Linked DNA regions of Homo sapiens: region 1 is linked to region 2. A link means that fine-mapping ties the variant in region 2 to the expression of a gene that starts in the linked region. Tissue or cell type: neutrophils. Region 2 holds a variant in brackets; the other region holds the start of a gene. All regions are shown on one strand. Distances are between the middles of the regions.

Region 1 (8,107 bases), 340 kb after region 2:
CAGTGAGAAGTGGGCCTCTGCCTGCCTCTAGACAAGGACGGCAAGATGGGGAGAAGTGGCCCCGTGTGAGAGTTCATTTTCATCTGCCTCCTCTTTTTCCAGGCTGAGATTGTGGTTGGAGAAGAATTACATCTGTGGGCTCCTTTTGTAGTCAGAAGGGTAAGTGCAACATCTGTTTACTCTGTGCTCCATGGTAAATGTTTGGTTTCAGGCACCGCCATCCACTTCCTCTCCTCTCGTCCTCTATCTTTGCTGCACGGATAATAAATTACACTGAATTCTTCTCTGCATTTATTTAGCTTTCTTGTGGGTGTCACCTCCTCATGGAGGGGGAAAAATTGTCAGTAGTTTATAAAAGACAGAGTTTCTTTTTCTGCGTGATGTTCTGACATTATAGGGAAGATCTTGGAACACAGACCCCCCAATTCTGATTCTGGCTTAATTATGAACAATTGAGGCCCCATTCCAGGCCTGAAGCAAAGTCCAAATGGTGAGCACATTATCCCCACTCAGGTTTTCCTTAATGTCATAACACAAGGTTTCAGAAGTCAAAAACATCCAGAGAAGCAATATACACAGACACACACACACACAAATCCCTTCATCAAAGCCTTTTTGGGAGGCAGAGTACCAAGAATGGAGAACGGAGAAAATGCAGTTTCTTTGTTTTAAAACACAATTTAAACCTTTGAGATCAGAAAACTGGATTTTAGGAAGGTCCTGAGCATCTGATGACAGTGCTGACAAAACGTGCCCCATGGCAACATGAACCCTGGGAAGTTCAAAAGGCTCACCAAAGCAAGTTTCCTTCTATCTTTTGCTTACATTCTTTACATTGAAGTGCTGGTTTTCTTCTGTATTTGCAATGGTTCTATATACAGTTTCTGGAATGCAGTAGAGGTTCAAGTCATGTTTGTTCTCAAACTCCTAGGCTCAAGCGATCCTCTCACCTCAGCCTCCCAAAGTGCTGGGATAACAGGCATGAGCCACTGCGCCCGGCTTCAAGTAATGTTTGTTGAATGAATGAAGGCAGGAATAAATGAGTGATTCCTCTGAAGAAATCCTTGGCAGAGAGTAAAAATGCCAAATATCCCCCAAGAGTTTTCAGAATTGAAATGTTACATTTGAGTTGGCTGAGAGAGAGTGTGGTGCAGGACTTTGGTGGTGAAGGACTGTTGGTGGGTTGCCCTGAAACCCTGCAGTGAACCTGACCCAGCTTGCTCCTACAGACTGTCCCCCATTCCCAGGGAGGAAGGAGACTAGAATGAGATACCATCGCGGCACCCCCATGCACCCTGGCCAAAGTGGCACCAGTGACCACAACTGAGGCAGAAGAGACCAGAGACATCAAAGAAGCTCCTGCTCTGCCACTGCCTATTAACGACTGCAGCAGGGGGCCTCTGGGAATGACCAGGACTCCAGTCTCTGTCCTGTTTCTCCAGTTCTAGAGCTGATGGGTTGCCCTGAGCTGCACAGATCCCCTAAGGAAGATGACTCGGTGGCATGCTGGCATGGGTGCGGTTCCTGCAGCTCTGGAAAACTTCCTACACACCAGGAGGAGAGGGACTTACTCTTCTTGGTTTCCCAAACATGGAGCACGATTTTGAAGATGCGGAAGATGTAGTTGCGAGACCCCAAGCAGCAGACCTAACATCAAAGTGAGCTGAACATTTGCAGGGTATACCAGAAGCAGAAGCAACAGCAGCCTATTCTAAGATCCAAGCCCAGCCAGAACCCTCCCAAGACTGTCTGTTTATAGATCGTGGCCCAAACTGACCCTTGTTCCAAGGATGACCAGGAGAGTGATAACGGTTGTGGGCTTAGGAACCAGTCAGGCTTGGATCCAAACACTTCACTAGCTGCACGACCTTGAGTAAATGACAAGATGGCTTAACTGTGAAAGGGAGTAATAAGCATTGCCTATGTAACTAACAGGACTGTTGGAGTGATTCAATGAGATAATACATATACACAAATCAAGGCATGAAAAGCATTTATCAAACATTAGCTATAATTATTATTTCACTAACTCATGTGGCTAGCACTGGTGTGACGAGGAGGGGAACTTAGTTTACAAGTTATAGGTATCTAAAAATACCACTAAAACAAGTTTTTCACTCCTATGGACTAACTTAATGTCTGAATTAAGGTGTGAAAACCTGGATTCTAGCCCCTTTATTGCCGTCAACTTGCTGTGTTTTCTTGGGCAAGTCATTTTACACTTCCAAGCCTGGTTTTCGACATGTGTTAATAAAGATTCGGCTCTCACCCTTTAGGATTCTGTGGTTCAACCCAACAAAACAATCACTGCACTTGTGGAAAAACAAAAAAGTACTGAGCCAAAGGAAAAAGAGAGCACCAGGAATAAGGAAGACAGTTCTGCTGAGTCTCCACCCAGAGATGCACAAAGAAGTGGAAGAGAAGAGGAGGTGGGGTGATAGGAGGTGACTAGCAGGAATAACACACTCTAGGACAATGCTTGTCATCACTACTCTCTTCCAGCCTGAAGTCAAGAAAGCAGAGTGGAAGATCCAGGCGCCTACCCCTAAGGCACATGAGGAAGGGGAGAAGAGGGAGAGCAAGACACGGAGGGAATCTACCACACTAGAGCAAACCCTCACCCACTTCTCGGCTGGGTTCCCAGTAAGGCTTCCCACCCACTCCAGCGTTTCTCCCCCACTCCCTTACCCCACCCCAACTGCGGACTAAGAGGAGCCCACCCCGGAGTCCAAGTTTTGAATCTGGTCCGAGGATCAAAATGATAAATGTTTCCAAAACGTTGACATATGAAAAGTAAATATTTGGTTGCACAATTGGGGCTAAAACTAGGGTCAATCCACCCCATTCTCCAAGCGCCTCTCCATTCGCTGCCAAGCCCAGGATCTGAGGCTGAGTGCGGTTTGTAAGATTATAACGCTCGGTCTCATTTGAAGGGCTGTCAGCATTTCCATTCTCCGGCCCCTTCGTTCGGGGAGGCATTTATAACCGAGCCATAAAAAATTCACCCGGGGCTGCAACTTGGCATCTCCCAGACTGCGCTCCAGGCAGAGCGGGTTTTGCGAGCACCCACTCTGAATCTGTCCAGTTCCTCAGAAGTTAAACCTTCACCCACACTCTCAACTTTCCTTGCAAGGGCAGCCAGAGAGCGGCTGGCCCATTCTGATCTCCAAGCAGGTCAACAGTCTCGGGCCCTCTCTCCCGCCTCCGCGCCTTGACGGCCCATCATCCTATAGCTTTCTCCTTCGCCCGCCCCCCTTTTTAACGAGCGCAGACCCCTGACCCTCACCCTAAGACCTTGAGGCTGCAGTGCTCTTGCCTCCCCTCGCCTCTCCTCAGCTACTCCTTGGAAGCTGTCAGCGGGCCCTGCGTCTGGAACCCTCACCCCTGGAGAGGCACTGCTCTTTGCCCATCGCTGGGGGTTTCGAGACCTCTCTTTCCAGATCTGACCAAGCCTACAGACCCCCAGCTCGGAGAGTGAGGGATCGTATCCAGGAAGGGATGAGAATAGAGACTGCATCCAGGGAGGCCGAGGGGAAAGGACGGATCTGGCGCCTGGGGCCCCCTCGGTGGGACCCAGGTGGGTGGCCCGCGTGGGGTGGGGCAGGGGTACTCACAGGCGCTCAGCGTTGCGGGGGATGCCCCGAGGAACCGCGCGGAGGCCCAGCCCGTGGCAGTCCACGCTGGCAGCGGAGCAGGTACACTTGGTGGGGCAGGCGACGGCTGGAGGCCCACTCAGGACGCTCGCCAGCGCCAAGGCCAGCGCCAGGCGGGCGCGCACGGCGGCGCCGACCCCTGCCCACCCGGGGGCCATGGTGTGCAGGGCCCCGCTCCTGGAGGAGGCTGCCTCTGCGGGGCAAGACGCGTGGAGCCCGAGGAGGCGCGCGGGGAGCGCGGGCGGCCTGGGGAGCGGGCGGCGGAGTTAGCGCGGAGGAGGGGCGAGCTCGGTGCTCAGGCGCACGGGGCGCGGGCGGAGCGGGGCGCTCCGGGCGGCGGCGGCGGCAGCAACAGCAGCTCCATCGGCGGGGCCGGCGCTGCCCCGCTGCGCATCGCTGGGAGTGCCCAGGTGCGGAGCGCCCCCTGGCCCCGCTGGCCCGCGGGCCGGGTTGGGGACCTGGGGCGAGCGCAATGGGGCGTGGCGCCCGGGGAGGTCCGGCTTGGGGCTGGGCTGGGGAGCGCGGCGGCTGCGGCTGGGGCACGGGGCGGCCGGGTGAGCTGGCCGGCGCTCGCTCTCTCCATTCAGTGAGCACGGCAGACACCGGAGACGCGGGGCCCACCCCTCCGGCCCCCCCCCGACCAAGAAACGCCAACTCCGCCTCCCATTGGCTGCGCCGCGCGTCATGTCGACTAAGTTGGGAACTTTGCTGGAGCGACCGAGAGCCTGGAGGGAGGAGGCAGTAGAGGAGGGAGAGAGAAGGAACCAGGGAAGGAAAGGGGCTCGGCCAGCAGGGCCCCTGGAAAGAAACACTGAAACTCATTCACTGTTAAGATCCAAGGACGGATAAGGCTCCTGACACTTTTTTTTTTTTAATTTTTGCACTGAGCTGAGCACTCTACTCATATTCTTTACTTAAGTCCACGATCTTCCAAGGGGTCGTCTGAAAACAGCTCAGAGAAGTGAAGCGACTTGCTGGAGGTCGCACAGCTGCTAGGGACGCCAAACCATGGCAGTGTCGCCCACGAAGCCGCTTCCCTACCGCACCTAGTACTCATGGCAGAGATCCACAATTTTGCCTGAAGAGCCTTGGTTGACACCAATGTACTCCACAGCTACACACACACACACACCGTGGTCCATGTTGTTGAGGTCACTGCTGGCAAACCTTACCCGGAAACTTGCCCTGCTTTGCCCAGACCCAGCGCTTGGTGGACTGGTAAAAGTAGTGATGGCAGCGACTTGGACCCCTGGATTGACAATGCCTTGTTCCATCCTCGGGTTTCTGCTTCCTGACTGGGTGACTCTGGGCCAATCGTGTCATCTCTGAGCCTTCGTTTTCTCAAATCCGGGGCCACAGTCCTACCTGGCCTCACCTCCCTGGGTTGTTTGGAGCATCACAGAAGAGAACGTGTTTTTGCAAAAGTCATTCGCAGACGAGGCATCCCTTCTGTCCCCAGCGCCTTCTTTCTTCCAGCGCCCGCTTTAAATTGGCTAGGTCTGAGCTTTTCCAGATGCCAGTGGGGAGGGGCGTGTGCGTTAGAGGCTCCATAAATACTTGTAGGAATGATTTTGTTTGTTTGTTTGAAAGGAAAGGGCAGGAACTGGAGGAAGTATTGCCCAGATTTCCTTGAGGTCCCCTCACACTGAGAAGGCCTGAATGAGCCCTGCATATATATACACACACACTGGTGCCTACGTATTCACAGCCACGCACACACTCTCACATACTCAGGCTCACACACACCCATTTATACACCGGCAATCACACACACGTGTACATGCATGCTCGCACACACACTCACATAGTGACAACTATACTCCTGAGAGCGCTTCTCTTTTCTTTCATAAGAATACTATTCTGATTTCTTCTACCTCATTTTCCTTCAAGGAAACTTTCAACTACTTGACCACATCCTGTGAATATATAGTAGAGTTGTAGATTTTATTGTATTATACTTAGCAGATTTTCAAAGTCTTAGCTTTGGGCACCCACTTGCGCGCGCGTACACACAAACACACACATACGCACACTCACTCAAACACACACACTCGAGTCCCTTCATCATTCATAAACACATTAGGTGCAATTTACTGCTGTTATTCTTGGGAACGGCTTTCTGTACAGATGCTGTTGTTATCGCCCCCTGGTGGCTGGCGAGGGTCTATGCTCCGGTCTTCAGGGTGACTTCGGTATTTAAGAACTCTAAACATCCTTTTATCCCTTTGCTCTGAAGCTTTCCTCCAAACCTTGAACCAATTTAGTACCAGGACTGAGGCAGATGAGAGAACCGGGCAAGGGCCCAAGGGCACAAAGCGTCTCAGACTGTCTGGAGCAGAAAACAGTACGGTTTTCTTTGTTTTCCCAAATGCATGCTAGAGCATGTTTTGCAATCCCTTCGGGCTGGTCCTGGATCTGTGCTCTGAGCGCAGTGGGGGACTGCGTTTTCCATTTAAGCTGCTCAGGGGGGTTTCATGAGCCAGACTGTATCTTTAAGGGACTTTATAGGCATTCAAGTGTGACTTTTCCTGGGAGAAGCCCCTTAGAACAGATGGTGAGGATTTCCTTCAGAGTCAATCATCCCCAAGGAGGAGGCAAGTGGGAAATACAGGAGGGGCCCAGAACACCAGGATACACAGAATCATGGAGTGTTTGGGCTGGTACAGCCTTAGAAATCACCTAATCCAACATTTCTACAAGTGCCTTCTGATGACTACTGATTCCACATGTTTCATCATGGAGGAGAAAAAAGTCTCCTTGGGCAAAGACAGATTGAGAAATGCTACTCACCTTCACCCCTCTTGGAGAATTGCATCACAGATGAGTGTTTTTAAGTTCCTGAGAAGTCCTGCAGTAAGGAAACCTGTTTAAGGCTTATTTAACCCAGTTTCTCAGTATAGAGGACCACTTTTCATGTAAACTGCAAATTCTCTTGGAACATACTTTGAGAACCCAAATATAGTTCAACTCTTGTATTTTACGAACAAGGAAGCTGAGTTTCAGAGAAAGGCGGGCATTTATGTAGGGTCACCTAGCTAATTAGTGAAATAACCAGAGCCAGGACTCCGGGCTTCCAATGCTGAACATGTGGCTCTGTCCACTTCCTCAGCTGATTCTGGGGCATCTGCAGAAGGCGGTAGCCACCCCATGGAGCAATTACCCTCCTTGGAGAAGACTGGGTAAATCACTAGGAGGTCAGGCTATTGTTTAGAACTTTCTATGTCCAAGGGCCAGAGGTGGCTTTACACTCTGTGGTGTCATTTTTAGAGTTGCGTAAAAGTCCCTGGACACTTTTGAATTTTCCCCTTTACTTTTCCATAGGCTTTTCAAAAGCAAACTACTCGCCCATTCCTGCAGGAAACCCCATCTCAAACTTTCTCCTCAACCTGTGTTTCTCAAAAGCAAACTACTCACCCATTCCTGCAAGAAACCCCATCTCAAACTTTCTCGTCAACCTGTGTATATTTCCCTGTGTGAGATACTACCCTTCATGTGGCCACCACAGTCAGCGGAGGTTTTCTGTTTCCAACCAGCCAGACTAACCATTTGTGCTCATCGTTCTCCAATGAATTCTCCAGATCTACTCTCTGCCCACTGTCGGAGGCAGTTCTGTTCCTCAGAACAAACAAAAAACTTTACCTTATTGAATTTCCCCAAAAAATGACTTTTAAAGAAAGCCATGGATAGCACACAGAATCTACAGAAAAAAATGAAGATGGAGGCTTCAACAAAGACAAGACCCAAGGCAGGATCTAGGTGCCAAGCTCAAGATTTCCAAATTCCCAGGAGGGAGCAATTGATGGTCCTGACTTGAGTCACGTGATCACCCTTTTGGCCAGAGAAGACAAGAACTATGGGTGACAGTTTTATGGAGACTGCACTCAGTTGGGCAGGTAGGAGTCCTTCTCTCAAAGGAAAACCCAGAAGCTATTAGCTGAAAAGTGGGTGGGAGTATTGAGAAGTCAAAACAGCTCAAAGAATTTTCCCTCTCTCACACACCACAGCCATTTAATTCTTCAGTTCTGTTCATTCTTCCCCATGACCATCTCTTCAATGTATCCCCTCTTCATCTCTGGTTCTCCTGCTATTGTTCAGATCCTAGTTTCATGCATAGGTATTGCTCATTGGCCCCCACATAATTTCTCTAACTTTATTTCTTAGTTTTTTGCTTCACCAATCCGTCCTTTGCCCTGATGATCCAAGGATCTTAAATACAGACCTGACAATGCAATTTTGAACTCTGGAGTTGTTTTCTGCTTCTTCCACCTCATCTGCCACCACTCCTCCACATCCACTCAATACCCGTCCCAGAACATCCTTTCCTGCTCTCCTGTCTGTCTACCCCAGAGTCCATGTAGCAGCCGAATCCTCCAGTTTAGAAGCGGAATCCTCTGGACTTGTTGGTCCAGACTATTAGGTTCTTGAAGATAGTGACCCTGTGTAATCCAATTTTT
Region 2 (8,107 bases):
ATAGTTTATGAATGGTCAACTGCTTGAGGAAACTGCATGGCATTTTGTATTTTAAAGATATATTCATGTCCAGCTGCCAGTTTTTTGAGAATTTATTATATGTCAGCCACTGTCCTCCAGGTTTTATATGCATTCTCTCTTAATCCTCACAGAAACCTGTGAAAGATGTATTGTCATCCCCACTTTACAGATAGAAAGCTGAGCCCCAAAGAGATTAAATGATAATGTAAGCCAACTATCAAGTGAAAACCTGGTGTTCAAACCCAGAACTCTCTGCCTGCACAGACTATGCCCTTAATCACCATATGACACTTCCACCTTTCACATCTACCACAATCTTTGACACAATCCATGACAGTTCTTTGATATAGATTGGGAAGACTTTTCCCCCTAGAGAGAGAAGAGGGTTTCGGGAAGAGATCAGAAGGTCACCTGCAAGGGGCAATTCAATGGTTTGTGTGTGCTGTGGTGGAAGAAGGTGTCATGTGTACCGACATTCTTTTCTCCAAACTCCATCCTTCTCCCTCCCAATACATAATCTAACCTAACCCCTTGGATCTCCTTCCTATCCATGGCTTATGAATGAACCTCCACCATGAGTGGTATGGTACCCCTTTTACTTCCACCTGGCCAAGGGTAATGAATGTGTGCTACAGGGGGCTCCCCCATCTCCTATGCATGGCAGGCATTGCTAATCGATGACAGCTCTTTCCTTCAGGAGCTGAATGTGGCCATGCCACCCTTCCTGGCAGACGACTCCAGTCAGTCAATCTGGGCTGAGATTTGAAAAGAATGTGGTTGCTTTTCAGCCTTAAGCCTTATACACAGTAATGGAAATAGCATGTAGAAATGGCGAATTAGAAATACCACATATCTGAGAACTTCAAAGCCTGGGTTTTAATCCTGGCTCTGATGCCAACTTGTGACTTTGTGCAAGTTATGTCTCACTCTGGGCCTCAGTTTATCCATCTGTAAGTGAGGGGGTATGCCTGTGCTATAGAGAACTTAAAGTCTCTTCCAAGAATAACATCCTAGGTTCTGACAGGTGTTCAAAGCCAGATGGAGCTCATCAGGGGAAAGAAAGGCCCTGTCTGTGTTGACAGGACTGTGTGATCAAACCTGTATAAGAAAATATCCCACACGTGAAAACCACCCTGGAGAGCCCATTGTGCCTCATTGTCTGCGTCTGTGCAGGATAAAGCATCTATAAGTGGAAGAAAAAGCAAACACAGTGTCAGTTGTTCACATTATGAGAAACCACCTGTCACAGGCCCCGCCTCCAGGCTGCCTGGAGTAGGTGGTCTCTCCAGAACAGAACTTCAGGTGTGGGGGCCAGGAATCCATCCTAAGTGACGTGGGAAGAGGGCGTCTGGAGCTTGAGGACACAGCTGCTCAGTTCTTCTGTAGCTCCCAGGCCCCAACTCTTTGTCTTCCCTCCCAAGCTGGGAGTCAGCTTGGAGTTGCTTCTCCTTTGCTGAATTGAGACATTCAGGACCCTGGCTGTGGCATTTCGTGCCATCCCAGATGATAATGGCCAACATTTACCGAGTTCTCACAGGGTGCCAGGCACTGTGAGGTGCCTGGACACTTCTAACAGTCCTGTGAGGTAGGAACTACTATCATCCTCACTTTAGCGCTAAGGGAACGAAGGCTCAGGGAGGTTAACTTGCCCAAGGAGGCACAGCAGTAAGAGGCAGAGCCAGGAATCAGTCATGGGCAGGCAGGCTCCAGAGTCCTGAATTTTAGCCATATAACATGGCTGGTGGCTCCAGAGAGTCTCAGGTATTCTGTTGTATATTGTCTATGTAGCATGGTCAAATGACTGTCTTGCCTTTTGGATTTAAACTGTAGGAGGGCAGGGGCCATGTCTTACTCATTCTCCTCTGTACCTATGGTACCTGGCGTACTGCATGGCAGGTAATAGTCGGTGCTTGGTGATTCTCTGGTTAATGTATGCACACATAGATGAGTGCATAGAATCCAGAAGGCAGAAGTTAAGGAGCCATGCCTCTTCTCTGAATTACAAAGTTTTTGAAAAGAAAGAATTTAAACTATGTATTAAATGCCTACTATATGCCAGGAATTGTTCTAAGTGTTTGGTGTGATTGGTTTCATTAATCATCATAACAACCAAACGAGGTACAATCCCATATCTCCTTTACATGCAGAGGAAGCTCAGGCTCTAGGATTATAGTAAATTGTTTAAGATCACACAGATTTAAGTGGCAGAGCTGGGATTCAAACTCAGGCCTATTTGACTCCAAAGTGCCATGATCATTCATGTCATTCCATGACAGGAGGCATGTTCTTATTAGTGTGAGTCCAAAATGAAACCACCCTGGCCGAAGTTACCTTCTTGGGTTGGATGACAGCTCAATGACAGGAAGTGGTGGCTGCTTCCTCAGTGTCCCAGATAATGCTAAGATTCTAAGGCAGGGCCAGCAACACAAACCCGAGTTATGATTGGTGAAAGGAAGCTATCTGGGGCTCCAGCAGGGTTTTGCAGTCATAGAACCTAAAGCTGGAGCTTTATTAGTTTGCCAACACTAATCTTACTTAAGGAATAAAAGTGGGGGCATTGTACTCAGGAAAGATCTTGGACTGAGGCTAGGGGCCAGGAAGCAAGGCTTTTGGCAAGAGCCTGTGTCCTAAGAACTGACAATTTGGACTGTAAAGATGGCTAGTAATCTAACCAGCCATTGACCTTTAAAAAGCTCCATCTCCTCACCTGTGTAATGAGGAGTCCATGGATAATCTCTAACATCCCCTCCAGCTCAGAAAATCTTCATTCCCAGAAGGCATGGCCATTCCTTACCTCCCCTTTCCCCCTTCACTGCTAAAATATCCAGTGAGAGACCACTGCGTCTTTGACTGGATCAAAGCCCTGGTAGAGAGGAAACCCCTAGGTAACAGGACATAATTACTAAAGACTACACAGGTGCCCACTGCAGGAAGAAATAGCCAGCACATCCACTCATTCATTCAAAAGACATGTATTTTATTTCAGCCATGTACCAGACATGGTCTGAGTGCACTGATGAACAAACATAACAAAATGAAAATAAAATTAACAAAACTAAAAGCTGTAGACAGACTCTATGCTGTTTCTTGCACCAAGACTGATGAGCAGGGTGAGAGTGGGAGGTGAGAGCCCATATTAATCAAAGATTAACCAACATTAATAATACAAGCAAATAATATAAAACTATAATAGCAATAAGTACGTTGAAGACAAAATGTGAGTGTTATAGGAGTTTAGAGAAAATTGACCTAATGAGGAAGGCAGATGCTTGATCTGAGAACAAGGTGAACCGGTACCAGGGAACAGAACCTTCTGTGCAGAGAGAATAGTATGTGCAAAGGCTCTGTGGTGCAGAAAGCAGGATGGGTTAGTAGAATTGGTAAAAAGCTCTGTGTGGTTGCAGAAAAGGGTAAGAGGAGTCTGGAAAAGAAAGAGCCACGGGGCCTAACTACATATATTTTCTGTACCATGGTAGGAACTTTAATGTTTATCTTAAGAGCAATACTATACTATTTCAGGCATGCATGCACGCATGTGTGTGTGTGTGTGTGTGTGTGTGTATGTGTGAAAGACAGAGAATTGGTCAAAGCTGTGCTTTGAAAAGACCACTCTGGGTATGATATGGAGAATGGACAGGGGCAGGTCAGGGTGTTGTGACTGAGTCACAGAGCCTGGTGATTCTGTTGGCTCCTCCACGGTACAGAATTGCAGCATTCTTGCAGGGCAGAACTATGGATTCCATCTAGATTCCCTGGTGATCTACCTGCTGGAATCCTGCCTCCACCAGCATCTCTGGGCAGCTTCTGTACCCATGGGTGGGGGTGGGAGTGGGCTTCAATGTCCCACAGGCTCAGGGCATCTCCCAAGTGGCTGGTCACACTGGAGATGCAGCTTCCAGATGTGGAGAGCACAAGCATTCTGCCCTCCAGACAGGATCAGACAGTGAAATTCTGCCTTGGAAATCAAACCACACCCCCCACCCCAC[A/AACACACAC]ACACACACACACACACACACACACATACACACACACACAGTGGTACCCCACATATCTGTCAGAGACTTTTTCCCCAGACAAATAATGATTTATGGGAGGCTGTTCTGTTTCCCGCCTTTCTCTTGCTCTATTTTAGGAGAATATAACCAGACCATGTGTTTTTGCTTAGCCTGACACATTCCGAGCAAGCTTTCTATATTCCGTGTGCTGATGAAAGGTCTTTGCTTAAGAAGTAGAAGAAAGAAAAGAAAAGAAAAAAAAAAAGTGAGCCCAACCCCCATCTCCCCTGGTTGGCCAAAGGAAAGGTCATTATCCATACCCTGGAGTCCCACTGAGGCCCCCCAGGGCAGCCTGAGCTGGCGCTCTTATGACCAGACTCTGGGGTAGACCAACACTCCCACACATCCCACTTCATGGATGAAGAAAGCTGGGAGGGATGAAAGGTGGGCGCAGTGGCTGCCTTTTAGCTCTTAGACTCACTAAGCACTTTCCCTCCTTGGGGCCTTTGAACCTGTGGTTCTCATTGCCTAAAATCCTCTCCTTCCCACTCTTCACACTGCTGATTGCTCCCCTCCCTCAGGGCTCAGCTGAAATCACATCTCTTCACAGCAGCCGTTCCTTCCCCATCACTCCATCCAAAGCAAGTCTCCCCGAAACTGTCCATCTCAGCACCCCATTTGTTTCTTTTATGGCAATGATCATACATGGTCATTATTACATTTAGTTTCTTACTTACTTTTGCTTTTTGCTTCTTTATTTCATTTGGCGAGGGGTTGGCGAACTATGGCCTACGGGGCCAATCTGATCCCACTCCCTGTTTTTGTAAATAAAGTTTTACTGGAATGCAGTCACTCATGCTTATTTCTTTTCTTTTCGAAATGGAGTCTCACTCACTGTTTGGCCAGGCTGGAGTGCAATGGTGCAATCCTGGCCTACTGCAACCTCCATCTCCTGGGTTCAAGCAATTCTCCTGCCTCAGCCTCCTGAGTAGCTGGGATTACAGGCATGCACCATCACACCCAGCTGATTTTTGTATTTTTAGTAGAGACAAGGTTTCTCCACGTTGGCCAGGCTGGTCTTGAACTCCTGACTTCAAGCATTCTGCCTGCCTTGGCCTCCCAAAGTGCTGGGATTACAGGCATGAGGCACTGTGCCTAACCTCATGCTCATTTCTTTACAGAGTGTCTATGGCTGCTTTCACCACACAAGGCAAAGGTGAGTGGTTGTGACAGGGACTATTCTAAGCCTAAAATATTTACTATCTGCTGTGTTACAGAAAAAGATCAGTGACCCCTGGATTAGACTGTCAACTCTACGAGGGCAGAGACTAAGCCTTGCTTGTCTAGCAGTGTGTTAGGTACCTGATTCAGAGTCTGGACCATCATAGGCGTCTGATAGGCAGTTGCTGCGAGACAAACCCTTGCAAATGCCAGGTTGGAACTTGTCGAATCAATGACCAAGAGGCTGACCTTCATCTTCAAACCTCAGGCTCTCTTTTGTTGGCTTTATATAAGGCTTGCCTTACATTTAGTTTAAGTAAAAACCAGGAAAATATGTTTCAGTTTCCTACCATAGTGCCTTAAGCAAAATAAAAGGCAGAGTTTTAAGGGAGGAGGGAACCCCTCCAACTGGATTTTAAAAGACCTACTGAGCAATAAATATCAACGATTATGATTTATGAGGCCACGAGGAGTTGTCCCTAGTTATAATAGCAAGCTCAAAGAAGGCAGCCCAAATGGACAGAAATGCAGGGGGCTACATAAAAGCAAATAAAATAAAATAATTTACTAGTTTGATTTTCCTCCAAGCAGGCAAACACTTCCTGCTGATAAATGGTGAGCATTTGTGCAAGTCTTAATAAAGCATTTGGGAAAACACTTCTGTAGCACAATCAAGATTTTTTAAAAAGTCACCCAGTCATGGGAAAATATTAGGAACGATTTAACTGGACATAGTGATGGAATACTTTGAAAATTATAATTTGATCAGAGACATCCAATGTGGATTTATGTGAGGGAGAGTTTAATACCTAACCTGTTGGAAGTAAGTTTCCTGGATGAATTACTACCATGGGAGATAAGAGAGAGGCAGATATTTACATGCACTTCAAGAAAGCCTGGGGCATAGTTTTACGTATTATTGGCCAACAAAACATACAAAGAGAGATTAGGAGCCTATGAAACACATAGTGCCAAAGCCCAAACTCATTTCATTTTTCAAGCTGGACAAAAGGTAAGAAGTCAGGTGGATTGAGTGAAACTTACTGCGTATAAATAAAGCACAAACTGAGAAAATGTAAAATAATCCAGTTAAACACAGTCAACCTTTCAGCCTTCGGGTCACCTAATAGAATTTGTTTTGAATCTTTCGGCCCAAATGTTATAACTGAGGCAAAGATATAACATAAGCCAGGATGAGCATCAAAGAAATTGCAGTCAATCTCAGTTGTTAGTAGGTGAACCCTCTGGAGATAAGCAAAGGGACCCCTTTGCCATAAGGCATGCCTGCTCTGTATCATCTGCACACATTGCAAAATACATTTCCTGATGCCCACTAGGGCCCTTAATACATTTCCAGTGAAGAAGGCTCTAAAAGATAGTAGGTATGGTTGATGTGTCCAAAAGCAGTCTGCAGGTCACAACCAGGACCAGAACCAAGACTAGGGAGACGTGTCTGAGACTCACCCAGGGCACATCTCTAAGGAAGCACTCACATCCCTGAAAGAGAGAGGGCCTCCTTAAATGGTGCACCCTGGGCACCTTGCTTGTCTCAGCACAGTCTATGCTGTATGTGGGACTTTGTTCATCTCAGAACAATTGAGCTCACCTGGGTCACTCTCAAAGGGTAGAAATGATCTCCTTCATTTAGGGTACTGTACTATGAAAGAGAAAACTCCTATGATTATAAATATCTATTGGAAGAAAAAATGGTTAGAACTTAAGATATAAGCCTATTCTCCTAGCATTTGAGAGATAAACATGTTGTTTAGGCGACTTTGCTCACTTCAACAAGGAAAGATACTCACTTTAAGTGGATCTAAAACAGAAAGATGGGTTTTGAAATCATAATAGCTAAGGAGCAAACGTTCAGGCTTTGATGGGACCTTTGCTCTTGTTACTCTCAAATATGAACTTGAGAAAGTTATAAAATACTAAATTACTTTGCCCATATAGCCCCAAAATACATCTTTGTGGTTTTCATTGCATTTTGACCAATATTAAGTTAGTTTAGGAAAATATGAGTTCTGCCTACTCACACATGGGTCTCTTCTGGTGTATCTTTTGCTCATCCAAAATGAACTTCATGCCAACAGCACTTTGACATACCAGTGTAGCAAACTGCTATTATGCACCTACCCTAAGTACAGACAGAATTCTTCTCTATCGCTTATCAGCAATGACACCTAAAAGTTTACTGTCTCTCCGAGGGCAAACTTTCCACTTGATTCTGAGTTGGTGCTTCTGGTTTCTAGGTAAATAGCTCAACAATCCCAGTTAGGATGTACTGTGAGGTGTCAACCTCTCCAATTGTGAACTCATGCCAGCGCACGCTCTCTCTCTCTGTACTTCATCCTACCCTGTTTAGTGGGAGAAACAAGATCTGCTTTCTAAGCCACAAGATGGCAAGACCTCAGAGCTGAGTATCTCAACAAGGAAAAATAAGCAACAGCGTGTGGTTCTCTTACCTAAGCAGGCCAAAGCTTAGGCAGTCATAATGTGCAGAAGTGCCTGAAGAGATGCTATATTGATTATGAGATACGATTGTGAATTTTATTACCTTCCGGGAAAAAATAGGCAACATAAAAGCAAGAGTTTTGTGCCAGATGTAAGAATTAAACTCTACAGTTATCTGATTAGCATTAGAGACATGTGCTTTGAATGTGAAACACTTGTAAGTCTCCCCAGGTGAGCTCTCGATCTTATCTGTGCCATGTATGTAGATTTTTATATGCCTGCTCTTCTCAAATGGGACCCAGATGAAGTTCAATCATTTGCCTAGAAGAGTCTGAGAGGTTCGCTGGATTTTTTTTTTTTTTTAATTTTAGAAGCCAGCATGATTTTTTATAAGAGAAAGGCAAAGCTTTGGGACTTTGCTTGGA

Which allele goes with the higher level. Positions count from the first base shown, and alleles are read on the strand shown. Sizes are in standard deviations (SD) of each study's normalised expression.
In carriers of allele AACACACAC in region 2, the expression in neutrophils of the gene that starts at base 4,241 in region 1 tends to be higher than with A alone (moderate effect, 0.60 SD a copy in CEDAR).

The links. PIP is the estimated chance that this variant, and not a neighbour inherited with it, causes the effect.
Region 1: SLIT3 starts here. The variant in region 2 is fine-mapped to the expression of SLIT3 in neutrophils (CEDAR, PIP 0.95).

Annotation. Positions count from the first base shown.
Region 1 is chr5:169,296,899-169,305,005 of GRCh38, forward strand. It overlaps SLIT3 (slit guidance ligand 3), which reads right to left and starts at 4,241. Exons shown (of 36, transcript NM_003062.4): 1 at 3,615-4,241. The coding sequence starts at 3,811.
Region 2 is chr5:168,958,304-168,966,410 of GRCh38, forward strand. The region is part of intron 4 of SLIT3 (slit guidance ligand 3); the gene reads right to left. Among named protein-coding and RNA genes, the nearest start is that of SLIT3-AS1, 51 kb to the right of the region's middle. The variant A/AACACACAC (reference allele first, on the strand shown) is at 4,008.